Homo sapiens: one gene and its partners. The protein of the gene in region 3 interacts with the protein of the main gene of each other region in a pairwise test. Each region holds a gene or a part of one and is shown on either strand. Other genes may lie near its edges.

Region 1 (2,890 bases), on a different chromosome or scaffold from region 3:
ACACATCCCTATAGAAAGTGGATAAAAGATATACCAAAACTGTAATACAGATATATACAAATATAGGTGCCTTTTTGATTACTCTTGTTTGTCTAGTATGCTCTTGGAAAGAAAACCAAGCAAGCAAGTTGCTGCCTATTCTATAGTAATATTTTATTACACATGATTGATATTTTTGTGGTAGGGAAGTGGGATGCTCCTCAGATATTAAAGGTGTTAGCTGATTGTATTTTATCTCTAAAGATTTAGAACTTTAGAAAATGCCGACTTCTTCCATCTATTTCTGAAAGGTTCTTTGTGGATTTATATAGAGTTGAGCTATATAAACATTAACTTTAGATTTGGGATTTAAAATGCCTATTGTAAGATAGAATAATTGTGAGGCTGGATTCACTACACAAGATGAACTTCACTTCATAAATTAATTATACCTTAGCGATTTGCTTCTGATAATCTAAAAGTGGCTAGATTGTGGTTGTTTTGGTTAAGGTGATATGGAGGTGGGAGAGCTTTTAGTTAAGTAAGAAGCTATGTAAACTGACAAGGATGCTAAAATAAAAGTCTCTGAAGTATTCCATGCCTTTTGGACCCTTTCCTCGCAACTAACTGTCAACTGTTGATCAAAAAAGTCAAGGCATTGTATGTTGCTTCTGTGGTTATTATTCTGTGATGCTTAGACTACTTGAACCCATAAACTTGGAAGAATCTTTGAGCAAATTTTCTCAGTTGTCTGTATGACTTCAGTATATTCCTGGGAATGCCATAGGATTTTTTGTGCTTGATACATGGTATCCAGTTTGCATAGTATCACTTCTTTGTAATCCAGTTGCTGTTAAGAATGATGTACTTTAAAGGAAAAGAGAAAACTGCATCACAGTCCCATTCTCCAGTGTCCATGCAATGAATTGCTGAGCATTTAGGAAGCAGCACCAAGTCTATTACAGGCATGGTGTGAAACTTGATGTTTGACCTGTGATCAAAATTGAACCATTGTACAGTTTGGCTTCTGTTTGCTTCAAAATATGTAGAATTGTGGTTGATGATTAATTTGCGAGACTAACTTTGAGAGTGTAACAGTTTTGAAGAAAACATTGAATGTTTTGCAAATGAAGGGGCTTCACGGAATGTTACAATGTTACTAATATAATTTGGCTTTTGTTATGCAAATTGTTAACACCAGCTATTAAAATATATTTTAGTAGAAATGCTTTAATTCATATTTTTTTCCTCTACACTGTGAATCTTTAAGCCTTGGTGGACTAGAGCAACATCGTGCTGCCCAAAGGACTAACCTATGCAAACTAGTTCACATTTTAGTGGATGTCGCAGTTAATGTGTAATAAGACATTATTTCCCCTGCATAATGTACAACAGCATTGAAATGACACATTAAGCCTAGCATCACATTGTATAGTACAGTCACTCACAAACCCTTCAAGGCTACCCTAATCATTAACATTAATATTTGTTTAAAAGCAAATCACCGATTTATCTATTGAAACTACTTAAATGACGGCAAACCAGGAATGACAGATGGCTGTGTCAGCAATGGCTTTAATGTGTTCCCTGCAAGTGGTCTCCTATGATAGAACTGCGTTCTCAAATGCACTCTCTTCAGGGTCTTAATATTCTGTGTTTTCTCTCTGTATTTGTAAAACATTATAACACATTAATTTCCTATCTCTACACATTTGGTTTGCTTAAATAAATGCAGGATATAAAAAAAATGGTTCACTTCTTGGCTCTCACCGTGGTTTCTTGGAGCATGGGTTGTTAGATGCAAGCAATGCACCCTAATAATACCCCGGGTCTGAGATTTAACATGACAACTCACATCAAATCGCATCAGAGGTGTGTGCTGCCTTCAGTGCATTTACATTGGTGAATCAGTCAAGATATTTTCCTCCCCCAAATAAACTTAGTTGTAAGTGATAACAATATTATGCTTCTCCAAGCTCAGTATCTTTCTGATTTTATATCAAAGTACCGCAACAATGCATCATTGTAGTTAATTTATTTCAAGAATAAATTCCTCATATGTCCTCAATAGTACAATTCTAATTTTCTTCTATTCATAAGATGAAAGAAATGGTTTGGAGCATAGAATAGAAAGTGCACAAATTGAGTACATAAAATGGGAAGCAACTGATTTCTCAGCTAAGAAAGGCTCATTTATCACAGAACACAATTGCTTTTCTCCCCCCACTACGCTTCCCATAATTGAAAAAGTGAGTCCCTATTTTTCACACTCATATAAATCTATGCGATTTGGATGCTAGTCTTATTGTATTATTTTGTAAAACTTTCTCTTTGGCTCATAATCCTTCCTAATTGTAAATTGATAAACTTTGCGGATGACATCTGCTCGTAGAATAAACACTTCTTCCAAATATTGGATTTTCTGTTTTTCATATTCCGTAAGTATGAAATGAATATTTTAATAGTATTATGAATCAAGCACACTGTATTTGAAATCACAAGACAGCACAGTTATTTATTTGAAGAATTCACTACCTTTTTTCCCTCTGAGACTTTTTTTTTTTCCATTCGATTATAAATTTACTCTTTGTAACCCAGGCCACAGAGGAAATGAATACCTTAGATTTTTTTTTTTCTGACAAAAAATAATTTAGCTTTTAAACAGACTGTGCTTATAATTTTATTTTCTTAAACATTTGTGAGGTTTTACGGGTAACTATGACATGCGCACCAAACAACTTTTCTACCAAAATAAGTTTCTACAAAAATATATAATAAACTAAAAAGTAGGTAAAAGGGGATTTTTTTTTTTCTTCATATAATCTGCTTTGATATGGTTTGGCTGTGTTCCCACCCAAAATCTCATCTTGAATTGTAATCCCTATAATCTCCATAATCCACACGTGTCAAA
Region 2 (7,051 bases), on a different chromosome or scaffold from region 3:
CCTTCGATGAAGAAATGCATGAATGACCAAGATGTATTTCAATCTTACATGAAGAAGAATGAAAACCAGGCCCTTGACTCCAGAGTAGCAAAGGAACCTCAAGCACCACCAAATCACACTGATGTGGTATCTATGGGAGTGGCTTGTGTGTGATTGGGATGCAAAGTAGAATGGGAATTTAGACATGGAAGATATTATTATATTGTAGTGTATTAAAAACCATTTCATGAAAAGAAAATTCAAGGTGAAAAATACATAGTGTCAGAATGTGAAAAACAAACCATAATCACATACCGATGCCTCAGTTTTTTTGTTTTTTTGTTTTTCGTTTCTTTTTGTTTTTTGAAACAGAGTCTCACTCTGTCACCCAGGCTGGAGTGAAATGGCGCGATCTCAGCTCACTGCAACCTCTGCCTCCTGGGTTCAAGTAATTCTCCTGCCTCAGCCTCCTGAGTAGCTGGGACTACAGGCACATGTCACCACGCCCGGCTAATTTTTGTATTTTTAGTAGAGATGGGGTTTCACCATGTTGGCAAAGCTGGTCTCAAACTCCTGACTTTGTGATCCGCCCGCCTCAGCCTCCCAAAGTGCTGGGATTACAGGTGTGAGCCACCATGCCCGGCCTCCTATGCCTCAGTTCTTATCTCACTTGATGAATCAGTAACTCTAGACAATGCTTATGGCACTCTTTCTCCCTCTCTCTCTTATATAAATGTATATATACATATAAATATATAAAGTATATATATAAATGTATATACACACATACACACACACATACACATATATACACACACGCATATACATATAAATGCTGTTCTAGCAAATTAATCAAACTTGAGGAGAGGGTCTTGGGAACCCCTACTTTACAGCTGGTTGGTCAGAAGCTGAGGTGACAACCTGGGACTTGCCACTGGCATCTGAAGTGGGACACAGTCTTGGACTGAGCCCTTAACCGGTGGGATCTGATGCCGTATCAGGTAGATAGGGTCAGAGCTGATTTGAAACAGACGATACCCAGCTGATGTCTGCTGGAGAATTGCCTGGGCTGTGAGAAAACAACCCCTATATATCCAGTGGCATAAATGCTGTGTTGAGTGACTATGTGACAGAGAAAAAAACAGTTTGTCGTTTTTGCCTCAGAAACACAAAATGATCCTCTGACAAGTGATGAAGAAGAATGGGAAGATGTGAAAATCCAAGCAAGAAGAACTTAGGGGAAGCAACTCAACATCTAAGAAGAAATGAATAGGGATCAGTTCCAAGAAGAGATAAAGGGGTATGTATGCTTCTCTGAATTCCTATAAGAAAAAGAGCTCTTGTATCCTAGGGGAGAAGAAGATGTGGCAGCTGTTTCTGTCTCCCTAGACACTTTCACAACTGTCATGCCTTCTCTAAATGACCAGAATGTGACTTCCGCTGCCTTCCCCTCTTGCTGGTTCTCTCTCACTTACCTGGGTGGGCTGGACTGTGGATTTCATCTTCTAGTGTCCATAGTGGTTCTCCTTGTTCCAACTTGGTGAGGGCATCAGGTTTGCCGGCTTGATACCCTGTTTGTGGGAAATGGGAGAAGACTTAGGCTCACTGAATTGCACCACGTGGCTCTGATGATAGGAGAAAGGTACATGTTAGGGACTGCATAATTTGCATGTTAGCAAATTAAAGGCTTTTTTTCTAAGACGAAGGAAGATTATGCCTCTTCCTGTGGGACCAGAGACGGGCCTGAGGATCTGCCATTTGGGAGCACAGCAGACATACCAAAGCTTCCAGAAGCTGAGAAAGCAAAGGCCACTGACTGGGTACCCTCTGAGTGACACAGGGCAGCTGTCCTCACCCACTGACACAAGGTTGCTGTAGTTCTCCAACATCACATCCCGGTACAGGTCCTTCTGAGCAGGGCTCAGGAACTGCCACTCCTCCCAGGTGAAGTCCACAGCCACATCCTCCAGGGTCAGTGATTCCTGTAATAACACAGTCCTGCTTAATATGTTTCTCTTTTATTGACATGGAAGAAATATGAAGTTGTTCGGCCCATTTTCACCACATAAGCTGCACCTGCACAGTTGTCCCTTGGTATACTCAATGGAATGGTTTCAGGATGCCCCACATATACCGAAATTGTGCATACTCATGACCTACAGTTGGCCTAGTGGAATCTGCTTATGTTACTCTGTATAAGCGAGTTTCACATCCTGAGAATACTATATTTTTGATTCAAGTTTGGATATAAGTGGACCCTTGCAGTACAAATTCATGTTCACAAATAAACTGTATTCCTAGTTTTTTAAATATACTGTGAAAGAAGCAAAGTCATAGTAAAATATTCTATATTTTATAATAACCATGCAGCCATCCATTAATCCAACAAATCATAAGTTTCTGTAATATGCAGCCATTAAATCCTCTTGCTAACATGAGAATGTCTGCAGTGTTTTTCAGCACCTACTTGCAACCCTAAACTATATGCTACAGTCATATAGTACGTGCAGAATAATCTAGCATGACCCCCTTCATGTAAACTATACCATGATATTTAGCAAAACAACAAATAAACTATGCAGTGGCCATAAAAAATAAGCCATCATACATGTAAGCATTGACATGCATAGATACATGTATATGTATACAACGCATGTATACACACACATACACACGCATGCAGACATAGATGTCCTCACAGGTAAATCCCTAGAACAGGAAGACAAGCATTTGTTAGTGACATACTAGGGAATTAGGAAAAAAAGTATACAGAGGGGGAACTTTGTTTTCACACTATGTGTACTATTTAACTTGAGTCTTTCACATTGAAAATCTATCCATGAGGCCGGGCATGATGTCTCACGCCTGTAAACCCAGCACTTTGGGAGGCAAAGGTGGGCGGATCACCCGAGGTCAGGAGTTTGAGACCAGCCTGGCTAACATGGCTAAACATGGTCTCTACTAAAAATACAAAAATTAGGTGGGCATGGTGGCACCTAGATGAAGCATGAGAATCGCTTGAACCCAGGATGCAGAGGTTGCAGTGAGCGAAGATCACGCCACTGCACTCCAGCCTGGGCAACAAAGTAAGACTGTCTCAAAAAAAAAAAAAAAAAAAACTATGAATCTGTGGTTCTTTCTGACACCAAATACACAGTGTCTTTTCCAGCAACACTTTCTCTGATGCCAACTGGGTATCCTAGAGTTCGATGCTATGCTAACACTAACCGCTGAGGGTTATCATCAGACTCTGCAGGTTTCAGGGCTCGGTCCCACAAGACTGCCCTCACATCATGTGCCACTCTGGGGTCCCCACGTTATCACACTTCTGTCCAACTTGACCACAACTGGAGGTTGCCACAACCTCCCTGCTCAGGTTCGATAATTTGCTAGAATGACTCACAGAACTCAGGAAAATGTCACACAATTACAGTTTATTATATAGGATACAAATGACAGCCAGGTAAAGAGGTACAGAAGTCAAGGTCCAAAGGGTGCCAAGCACAGGAGCCTCTGATCCCATGGAATTGCAGTGCCCCCTTCCCCCACCCCCCACTTCCACATGTGATCTCCAAACCCCATGGGGGTTTTTATGGAGCTTCTACGACGTGGGCATGATTAAATCATCAACCATGGCTGGGTGCGGTGGCTCACACCTGTAATCCCAACACTTTGGGAGGCCGAGGTGGGCAGATCATGAGGTCAAGAGATCGAGACCATCCTGGCCAAGATATTGAAACCCTGTCTCTACTAAAAAAAAAAAAAAATTAGCTGGGTGTGGTGGTTTGTACCTGTGGTTCCAGCTACTCAGGAGGCTGAGGCAGGAGAATTGCTTGAACCCAGAAGGTGGAGGATGCAGTGAGCCGAGGTTGCACCACTGCACTCCAGCCTGGCAACAGAGCAAGACTCCATCTCATTAAAAAATAAAAAATAAAAAAAAGAAATCATCAACCATTGGTCACAGAATCTGGAGGTCGGGGGTGGGACTGAAAGTCCCAACTCTGTAATCAAGGCTTGGTCTTTCTGGCAACCAGCCCCATCCTGAGGTTGTCTAGGAGCCCATTCTGAGCCACCTCATTACCATAAACTCAGGTGTGGTTGAAAGGCACTGGTTATGAAGAACAAAATACACTCCTATCACTCAGGAAATTCCAAAGGTTTTAGGAGCTCTGTGCCAAGAACCAGAGACAGAGACCAAATATATATACGTGTAAAACCATAATGAGTCATTTGCATAATTTTTTAAGTTAAGGCATTAAAAGAGGTGAGAGGTTAATAACTGGATTTGAACACAGGGAAGGGCTCTGTATTTTCTGAGACAACATGACATTCTAAAGCAAACCCTGTGGATCTCAACAACCCAAGCCATTGCCAAAGAGAACTTTCAACTCCCTTTGGTCAAATCTGTACTTAAACACCAGTTTAGTGACCTGTTCATGGAGCTCCTTTGAAAGCAAACCTTGCATTTTTTAGGCAATTAGGTTTACTCACAGATAAACACAGACTGCAACAAGGTTGGGTATATAGGCCGCAGTGCTGTGAGCTCTGGAAAAACTGTGTTCATTAAACCCTTCTTGGTATAGTCCCATAGAGGACTCAGAATAATCATGTAGAAACAGTCACACAAAACTTGCTTGTGTATCTTTTGGAAAAATGCTGTTAAGGACAAAAAGTCTATCTTGTCACCTCTAGCAAAAAGCATCAAACTAATTTCCCAAGATTTAAGTGCCATGAAATACTGACATCCCCTGAGGAACGGACCCGCTTTCTCCTCAGAATCAGTGCACATCATGTAACTTACCATGATTCTCTGGGTGTGATGGTGGCCAAAGATTTTGGACACAAGCTGACACTTAATGTAGCCAACAGGGTCTGGCAGAGTCGCACATTATATTCCAACACTGGTCACATGTGAACTATGTGAACAAAGTATTTGTGATCCCACTTTGTCCTGGATTAAAGGTACAGTCTAAGTCTGTTTCTCCCCAGAGCTCATTTTTTCCAATTTATACTTTTAATGTAAATGAACTGATTTCTTCAGACTTCCACAAATCCATCAGGGAATCGAGTTAAGAATAAAACAAACCAAAAGTTACCTGGGCCTTTGTCATTTTCTTCTGTTTCAGGAAATACCCAAGAACTGGGATGCTTCGTCTTTGGTTTCTTCTGGATCCTCCCTAAATTTTGGCTAAGAAATCTGAGTCTCCATTTAAGAGTGTTCCCAGAAATGATGACATCCACATCCAGGAACCTCCTCCTTCCTTCATTTGAACTCTCTTGCTTCTGGGGAGCCAGGACCTATGGAGTAAAAATCAAGTTCATTTGGTGACACATTCCCTCCGGGCCCAGATGCTGTCTCTGCTGCTGTAAACTCTCCTGCAGTCAAGGCCAAGCAATATATCTAAGCATCCCTTTGTCAGGTGTCCCCAAGTCTTTACATCCCAGGGCAATAAAACAACACTCTGAATGTGGGGAGTCATATGGCAGTGGGCTTAACCAGGAGCCGGCATATCTGGCCACTTTCCAATGCTTCAAAGGAGTGTCTTTCTCCTTAAGCACAGTGTTTATAAATAAGAGAGCAGGTCACGCTCTGGTCATGAGAACGTGATGGTAATAAGGAGGCTTTCCTCCTCAGAGGCCTCCTGTGATTTTCCAAAACTTATTGTCCCATATTTTTATGGCCAGTTTATGCCAGCACCCCATAAGCCTTTTTCCCAACAATCGTGAGACACACAGAGAAGAAACACACAGGTAAAAGAGAAGGCCATGTGAAGATGGAGGCAGAGACTGGAGTGATGCTGCCACAAGCCAAGGACACCTGAGAGTCTGTTAGAAAAGGGGAGACAGGTGAATGAATGTGGGCAGCTGTGCCGGAGCCCCTCAAGACCACTCCCAGATGCAGTGATTCACTAGGTGAACTCACAACACTCAGTCTATAATTATATTCATGGCAACCACTTATTACTGTGAAAACATACACAGCAAAACCAGCAAAGGTAAAAGGTACATGTGGCAAAGTCTGGAGGAAACCAGACATAAGTTTCAAGTTCAGTCTCTTTGGAGTCACACAGGATACACTTAATTCCCCGAGCCACAAGTCATGACAACACACGTGAAATGCTATAGACCAAGGAAGTTTATTAGAGAGAGATTGTGTGCCATGGTTTTTATTGGGGGCTGATCGTGAAGGTGCTCACTGCCTAACATTCACCAAAACTCCAGAATCCTAGAGGAAAGCATGTGTTCAGGATAAATCACATTGTTTGAAAAAAACAGCTTAGGCACAGTGAGCCACTCTTATTAGGAAATAGTGGGACTGCCTCCAAAAATCTAAGCTCCCAAATGCCAGCTGCTATGGTTTGAATGTTTGTGTCCTCCAAAATTCATGTTGAAACTTAATCTCCAATGCAATGGTATCAAGAGGTGGGCTTTTAGTAAGTGATTAGGTCATGAGGGCTCCTCCCTTGTGAGTGGCATTAAGGCCCTTATAAAAGAGGCTTTGGCCAGGCACAGTGGCTCATGCATGTAATCCCAGCACTTTGGGAGGCTGAGGTGGGAGGATCGCTTGAGGCCAGGAGTTTGAGGCTGCAGTGAGTTGTGATTGCACCACTGCACTCTAGCCTGGGCAACAGAGCAAGACCCTGTCTCTTAAAAATAAAAAAATAAAAAAAAATAAAGGCCGAGCGTGTTGGCTCACACCTGTAATCCCAGTACTTTGGGAGGCCAAGGTGGGCAGATCACTTGAGCTCAGGACTTGGCAACATGGTGAAACCCCATCTCTATAAAACATACAAAAATTATTCAAGCATGGTGGCACATGCCTGTATTCCCAGCTACTCAGATGGCTGCGGCAGGAGGACTGCTTGAGCCTGGGAGGTTGAGAGGTTGAGACTGCAGTGAGTTAGGATGGTGCCACTGCACTGCAGGCTGGGTGACAAAGTGAGACTCTGTATCAAAAAAAAAAAAAAAAAAAAACCTAAAGAAAGAAGAAATAATAATAAAAATAAAAGAGGCTTCACACACAGATCGGCCCTTTCTGCTCTTCTGCCTTCTGCCATGTGAGGGCACCGCA
Region 3 (7,000 bases):
AGCAGTGGTTACTTTGCCGGGTTGGGGGGGAGGTAGGGGCTATCAAACCTCATGATTGGCCGCACACAAAGGTGTGAGTATGTGTATATTTGAGGGTGGGTGGGAGTGGCACTTTCACTAGGCCTCCGTATCACTCTCTGACTGGGGTATCTCCCAGCAAGCGAGACAGAGGCAGACACGCTTCCCAGACTGTCTTACTGGGTCTCTCTGTGTTATTCTCTGCAGTGTCTGTGTGTATCGTGCCATTTTCTATGTTTTGCACCAATCTGCTGTGAGTGTCCTCAGGTGACCTGGGGGCAGGTTTTTAGTGCCTGAGCCTACCCGTCTCCAGGCTTTAGTTTCCCCCTGTAAAAGTATAGGAGTTGGTTCAAGAGAAGGTTCCTCTAGAAGCCTTGAGCCTGTGAACCGTCTAGTCTCCGGGTATTTGTGGGACACACAGAAAAAGCCCCACGACCCAACAGGTAGAACACTGGCTGAAATCAGCAGGGCAGAGCTGAGACAGGCTCAAGTAGGCTGAGGGGTAGGGAGGTTTTGGGTGAATGGGAGGGAGGGACAGAGAGAAGGAGGATATATTGCAGTAGGAGGAGTTGCTGGAACAAAAGGAGGGGTGGTAGGAGTGGCTTGGGGTGGCAGCAGAAGACGCCCTGTCACATGGCGGGAAGTCAGCCTGGGCAGAGGTCTAGGTGTCCAGGAGGGGCTGGGTGTGGTGGCTCACGCCTGTAATCCCAGGACTTTGGGAGGCTGATGCAGGAGGATCACGTGAGGTCAGGAGTTCAAGACCAGCCTGGCCAACATGGCGAAACCCTATCTCTACTAAAAATGCCAAAAATTAGCTGGGTGTGGTGGCAGGCGCCTGTAATCCCAGCTACTCTGGAGGCTGAGGCACAAGAATTGCTTGAACCTGGGAGGTGGAGGTTGCAGGGAGCCGAGATCGCGCCACTCTACTCTAGCCTGGGCAACACAGTGAGACTCTGTCTCAAAAATAATAATAATAGGGGCTGGGCGCGGTGGCTCATGACTGTAATCCCAGCATTTTGGGAGGTGGAGGCGGGTGGATCACCTGAGGTCAGGAGTCCGAGACCAGCCTGGCCAACATGGCAAAACTCCGTCTCTACTAAAAATAGAAAAATTAGCTAGGCATGGTGGTGCAGGCCTGTAATCCAGCTACTCGGGAGGCTGAGAAGCAGGAGAATCACTTGAACCTGGGAGGTGAAGGTTGCAGTGAGATCACCTGGGCGACAGAATGAGACTCCACCTCAAAATAATAATAATAGTAATAATAATAAATGAAAAATTTTAAAATTAAACAATTAAAAATTTTAAATTAAAATTAAACAAATTAGATGCCCAGGAGGATACAGGAGAGCATTTGCCACCAGGCGGACTCCCTGTACCCACCCGGCCACAGGGGGCGATGTTCCTGGGAGACAGGAAATGCCCAGGGGCTGGGAGACCCTCTGCTCTTCTGCTCCCTTCCTGTGTGCTGCCTGGCAATGGGGAACTCTGAGGGCTGGTGAGCAGGGCTGCTGAGGAGTGGGTCTAAGGAGTCCCTGCAGGGCTGGGCCAGCTCCTCCACCTCCCCTTTGTCTTCCCCTCCCACTTGTTATTTTTAGCTACAGTGTCTGTCCCTCTTGCTTCTCCCCCAGATTGGGAGAGGAAACGGAGGCCTCTCCCTCCGGGCCTAGCCTGTTGCCCCCAGCAACCGGGCCCAAACAGGCCTGTGGCCGGCCCTGGCTTCCATATCTGGCATCAGAGTTGGGCTGAGCAGGGTGACTCAGAGGGTGGGTCAGCGCCTGGCCCGGTGCCCACCTAGCCCCTTTGCTGTGCTGGTGCCTTTCTTCCCCAAACAGCCCCAAGGGCCCGGGCCTGCTGCAGCTGGGGAGCCGGACTTCCTTGTCCCACCAGGCACAGCTCTTCAGACCCCTGCCTTGGGTCACATTTGCAAGTGCCAACTCTCATTTCTACCTTATTCTTTTCCTCTCTGTTCCCCTCCCCACCCCCTCTCTTCCCTCTTTCTGAGATCAGATTTGCCAGTGATGGGAAGAGTTAGAAACAGGATGCCCAGCCCTTCTCGCCTCAAGAGGCCACTGGGATGCAGCCACTCCTGTGCTTGGGGAACCTGGAGGATGCAAGGGAAAGGACTGGCACTCTGCTGGCACAGCACCCGGCCTGGGGCAGGACACGGGCGAAGCCAGGGTCTCCCCTGTGAGCACTAGAGGATTTCCCGACCCCTGCCCGGGTATTGTGTGCCTGAGCATGAGTCACCTGAGGGGCCCAGGTTCCCACCCTTCCCAGCTCCTCTGGCCTGCCCCACCCTGTCCTCCCTGCCAACCCAGCACGGGGACGGCACTCAGCGTGTGCTCAGCTTTCCTGATGCCAACCCCCAGTGGAGTGGGCTGCACCACCACCCTGGGACCGAATGCCTGGCTAGGGTCTACTTTGGTCCCTGCTAGGTCTGAGGACCCCTCCTAGGAAGGAAATGGCACTTGGGGGCGGGGGCAGGGAGGAGGGAGGAGAGACACTGGGCTCTACTGTACCCCTAGTCATCTCTTGGGGTGTGCGTGTGGCTCCCTGGCCACAGAGCTCCCAAGGTCTGAGTCATGAGCCCATGGGTGATAGTGGCTTCTTCCCCGCAGATGGGAGCTCCCCGTGCCTAAGAAAACCACAAAGGTTCTTCCTCACTTCCCTCTCTGCTCGTGGTTTTTCTCATCTGCAGGGTGTGTCTTAGTCCTTTAATCTCCTCTCTTTGCAGTGCTAGTCAAAACCTCCACCAGGGAAAGACAAATAACCCCCTTACTGTTTTTTTTTTTTTTTTTTTTTTTTTTTGAGATGGAGTCTCGCTCTGTCACCCATGCTGTAGTGCAGTGGCACAATCTCGGCTCACTGCAACCTCCGCCTCCCAAGTTCAAGTGATCCTCCTACCTCAGCCTCCTCAGTAGCTGGGACTACAGGTGCACACCACCGTACCCAGCTAAATTTTTTTTTTTTTTTTTTGAGATAGAGTCTCACTCTGTCACCCAGGCTGGAGTACAGTGGTACAATCTCAACTCACTACAATCTCCGCCTCCCAGGCTCAAGCAATTCTCGTGTCTCAGCCTCCCAAGTTGCTGGGACTATGGACGTGCACCACCTTGCCCGACTAATTTTTGTATTTTTGATAGAGTCAGAGTTTCACCATGTTGGCAGGCTGGTCTCGAACTCCTGGCCTCAAGTGATCCACCTGCCTTGGCCTCCCAAAGTGCTGGGATTACAGGTGTGAGCCACCACACTCAGCCAGCCCCCTTACTTTCCTTGGAGACCATATACTGTGGCTTGTGCCAAAGTGGTACAGCATGGATTTCCAGCTCCCCTATCTACTTGCTGCGGGACCCTAGATATAGCTTTCTGTGCCTATTTCCTCAATTGCATAGGAATAGCACCTATCGCATAGGGTAGCTGTGAAGATGACGTGAGTTAACATAATATTTAGAGCAGTGCTTGGTACCTAATAAGCTCTATATAAGTGTTTGCTATTATATTATTATTATCACTGCCACCACCGCTTTTGCAAGCAGCAGAAGGTGAAGAGGTTAGACTGAAGAAAAAACTTCTGTGCTCATCAGCCCATAAGCTCGCAGAGCACAGGGATCATGCATCTATGTTTTCCTCAGTCAGTGTCTGCCAGGCACTGGCAAGGAAAGGCTGTTACCAGGGGGAACTCCAGGAATTCCTCCTGGCACCTAAGGAGGCTGGGGAGACAGGACTAGGGAAAAGGTGCCCTTGAGACACCTTCTGAAATCATCCCATTGCCTTCCAGCTTCTTTCAGCTCAGGCTGGCTGGTCAGGGAAACGCTTTGTGCCATAGTGTCTGCCCTCTTCCTCCTCCTGGCTTCTCCATTCTCTCTGGAACTTGTGGCTTAGGAAAGCAGTGAGGTGGAGGAGGAGGAACCCTAGATCAGCAGCTAGAATTGACTGGAATGCTGCTGCTGGCTTTCGGTAATTGACACTGGGCCATTCACCTTCCTCCTTTGCACCTCAGTTTCCTCATCTATAAAAGGGAGAGGGTTGAGCTGAATCAACTCTAAGCTCCTTCTAGTTCTCTAAATTCTGAGAGCCTCCTAGTACAGCCAGCAGCAGCCATTAGCCTTCAGGGTAGAGAGGCCTCTTCTGGGAAGCCCCAGCCAGCCTGGGGGTCAGCCCAAGGAGCTCGGAATCTAAGTTGCCCCAGTTGCTTCACTTTACCAGCGGTTTTTCTTCATTTTCCCTCCTCCCCCTGCAGCTGCTTCAGCTTCGGAAAAGTTCTGAAGTCATGGAAAGTTGGGGCTGTGCTCCCAGCCAGGGGCTAGGCCGGATGGCAGCCAAAACCTGAGCTGGGTTTTGACTTTATTTTTAGCTTTTCTGACTGAGACAGAGGAGGGAATACATTCTCCGGTTCTGGAAGGGGCTCTTTTTTGCAGGAGACAGACACTTACATTAAACAACTTGTTCTGAGGTGTGGCCAGAGGCCTGGACTGAGCAAGTGTGCAGGCTGGGGGAGCTTCCTCTGGCTTCTCATGTCCTTCCCCTGCCCCTCTGAGTGTCACTCTATCCTCCTCCCTGCCTGGTGGGGGGAGGTGGGGGTGACTCCTTTTTTGGACTCTCCTAAGCAGAACACTGCCTGGGTCTCGTCCTCCAGAGCTTCTGCAAATCTAGCCTTCCCTATCCCTCTTCACAGTGAATTGCTGGGCCTCTTGGAGTTTAGGACTTTTGTGGTAGAAGAAAAATGTTGGCAGGGCTGCTTTTCTCCTTTCCAGGATAGATTTTTCCTTCTGCCCACGCTTGGTTTTCCTTTTTTCCATCTGCTGTGGTGGGCTCATGCTTAAGCACTGATGAGTTACAGATGGCAGCTGGAACCAGGTCCTCTGGATCTTTCCCTCCGCTCCCTGGGTCTGCTGCTTTCTCTCACCCTATATTTGTGAAGCAATTGTAACATCTAGAAAGTTCTTGGGTTCTCTGGAGGTTTTTAAGAAAATAGGACCTTTCTATTTCTCCAGTCCACTAGCAAAAATAATCAGGGGCCCAGAAAAGGTGAGGGAGGTGGCAGAGGCAGCGCTGTTCGACTGGTTATAGCTAAAGCTTTACCCACTTTGAGGAGCAGGGAGGCTTAAAGCTGGGGCCCAGATGGACCTGGAGGCCTGGGATCCACATCTGGAACCAGATGCTGAGGCTATGGTAGATGGGTAGGGCTCAGCCTTCTCCCAGGGCACGGATGAGGCAGGAGGGAGGGAGGCAGGGACCCCTCTGTTCAGTGCAGATCAGGGCACCCAGACTGGGTCCTGAGAAAGGAAAGGGTCAATATTGTGCCTGGTCATCCTTGTCTGAGGTCCCTCTGAGCTCTAACCAGACTTTCCTTCCCCACAGTCCCACATGTGTAAAAGGGACTAGGAGAGGTGACCAGTACCTTTGGGGCTCAGATCGAGAAGTGCTAGGGACATGTGGGCCATGAGCTTAGTTGTCAGGCTCCTCAGAGGGAGGGAAGCTTGGCCAAAGGGAAGTGAGTAGAGTCCAGGGAGAAGGCTAAGTAAGGCCCTGTGTGGGAAGGGGCAGGAGACAAAGGTACCCCTGTCTCTTTGGGAAAGAATGGGAGGAGAGAGAGGGAAAAGCATTCATATCACGGGGTAGAGCTCTGCCCTTGGCCCCAGGCACGTTCCTGAGCCCTGAGTCATGGGAAGGGTGGAGAAGCAGGAAGGGGGTTTTCAAGGACCTTGGGGAGGTGGGAGCCCAGCCCCAGAGGCAAGCAGATGCAAACCAACCTAATGCAAGGATGCCCTCTCCTGGTAATTGCAGGCATAGCAGCGCCAGCCCCCATGGCTGACCTCCTGGGAGCCTGGCACTGTCTAGGCACACAGACTCCTTCTCTTAAATCTACTCTCCCCTCTCTTCTTTAGCAATACCAAGAAGGAGGGTGACCTGATAGCTGCTCAGGCTCGGCTGAAGGACCTGGAGGCTCTGCTGAACTCCAAGGAGGCCGCACTGAGCACTGCTCTCAGTGAGAAGCGCACGCTGGAGGGCGAGCTGCATGATCTGCGGGGCCAGGTGGCCAAGGTGAGGCCACCCTGCAGGGCCCACCCATGGCCCCACCTAACACATGTACACTCACTCTTCTACCTAGGCCCTCCCCCATGTGGTGCCTGGTCTGACCTGTCACCTGATTTCAGAGCCATTCACCTGTCCTAGAGTCATTTTACCCACTGAGGTCACATCTTATCCTAATTTGGCTGCCAATGGGATCTACCACAGTGAATTTAAAATAATCCAGGAGGCCGGGCATGGTGGTTCACGCCTGTAATCCCAGCACTTTAGGAGGCCGAGGTGGGCCGATCACGAGGTCAGGAGATCGAGATCATCCTGACTAACATGGTGAAACCCCGTCTCTACTAAAAATACAAAAAATTAGCCTGGCATGGTGGCGGGCGCCTGTAGTCCCAACTACTCGGGAGGCTGAGGCAGGAGAATGGCGTGAGCCTGCGAGGCAGAGCTTGCAGTGAGCTGAGATCATGCCACTGCACTCCAGCCTGGGCAACAGAGTGAGACTCCGTCTCAAAAAAATAATAATAATAATAATAAAAATAATCCAGGCCATGTGTGGTGGCTCATGCCTGTAATCCCAGCATTTTGGGAGGCCAAGGAGGCAGGATTGCTTGAGTCCAGGAGTTTGAGACCAGCCTGGGCAACACAGACCCCATCTCTAGAAAATAAAAATTTAAAGAAATTAGCTGGGCATGGTGGTGTGCACCTATAGTCCCAGCTACTTGGGAGGCTGAGGCAGGAGGATGGCTTGAACCTGAGAGGTCGAGGATACAGTGAGCTGTGATTGCACCACTGCACTTCAGCCTGGGTGACAGAGGGAAACCCTGTCTCTACATAAATAAATACATAAAATAAAATAATCCACAAGCCATTTCTACTTAACTTTGCAATGAACTGTACCTGACCCTAGATCCCTCCCAGTTTGGCCCTCCGGTATACAAGGGCCTCCTAT

What was found.
Region 1: the proteins of LMNA (region 3) and NEBL interact in binary tests that used the Homo sapiens proteins (3 or more experiments, as listed by UniProt).
Region 2: the proteins of LMNA (region 3) and ZNF649 interact in binary tests that used the Homo sapiens proteins (3 or more experiments, as listed by UniProt).

What each region holds. Positions count from the first base shown.
Region 1 is NC_000010.11:20,779,473-20,782,362, reverse strand, and holds the end of NEBL (nebulette), read left to right. Parts: 3' UTR 1-2,390; downstream 2,391-2,890. UniProt on the Homo sapiens protein: Binds to actin and plays an important role in the assembly of the Z-disk. May functionally link sarcomeric actin to the desmin intermediate filaments in the heart muscle sarcomeres.
Region 2 is NC_000019.10:51,895,018-51,902,068, forward strand, and holds part of ZNF649 (zinc finger protein 649), read right to left. Parts: intron 5,448-7,051; exon of another isoform or gene 5,278-5,447; 5' UTR 5,091-5,277; coding exon 5,076-5,090; exon of another isoform or gene 4,784-5,075; coding exon of another isoform or gene 4,781-4,783; intron 1,962-4,780; coding exon 1,835-1,961; intron 1,551-1,834; coding exon 1,455-1,550; intron 1,280-1,454; exon of another isoform or gene 1,144-1,279; intron 1-1,143. UniProt on the Homo sapiens protein: Transcriptional repressor. Regulator of transcriptional factor complexes and may suppress SRE and AP-1 transcription activities mediated by growth factor signaling pathways.
Region 3 is NC_000001.11:156,124,711-156,131,710, forward strand, and holds part of LMNA (lamin), read left to right. Parts: intron 1-1,459; exon of another isoform or gene 1,460-1,493; coding exon of another isoform or gene 1,494-1,513; intron 1,514-1,844; exon of another isoform or gene 1,845-1,941; intron 1,942-2,025; exon of another isoform or gene 2,026-2,092; coding exon of another isoform or gene 2,093-2,205; exon of another isoform or gene 2,206-2,239; intron 2,240-5,116; exon of another isoform or gene 5,117-5,139; coding exon of another isoform or gene 5,140-5,198; intron 5,199-5,906; coding exon 5,907-6,063; intron 6,064-7,000.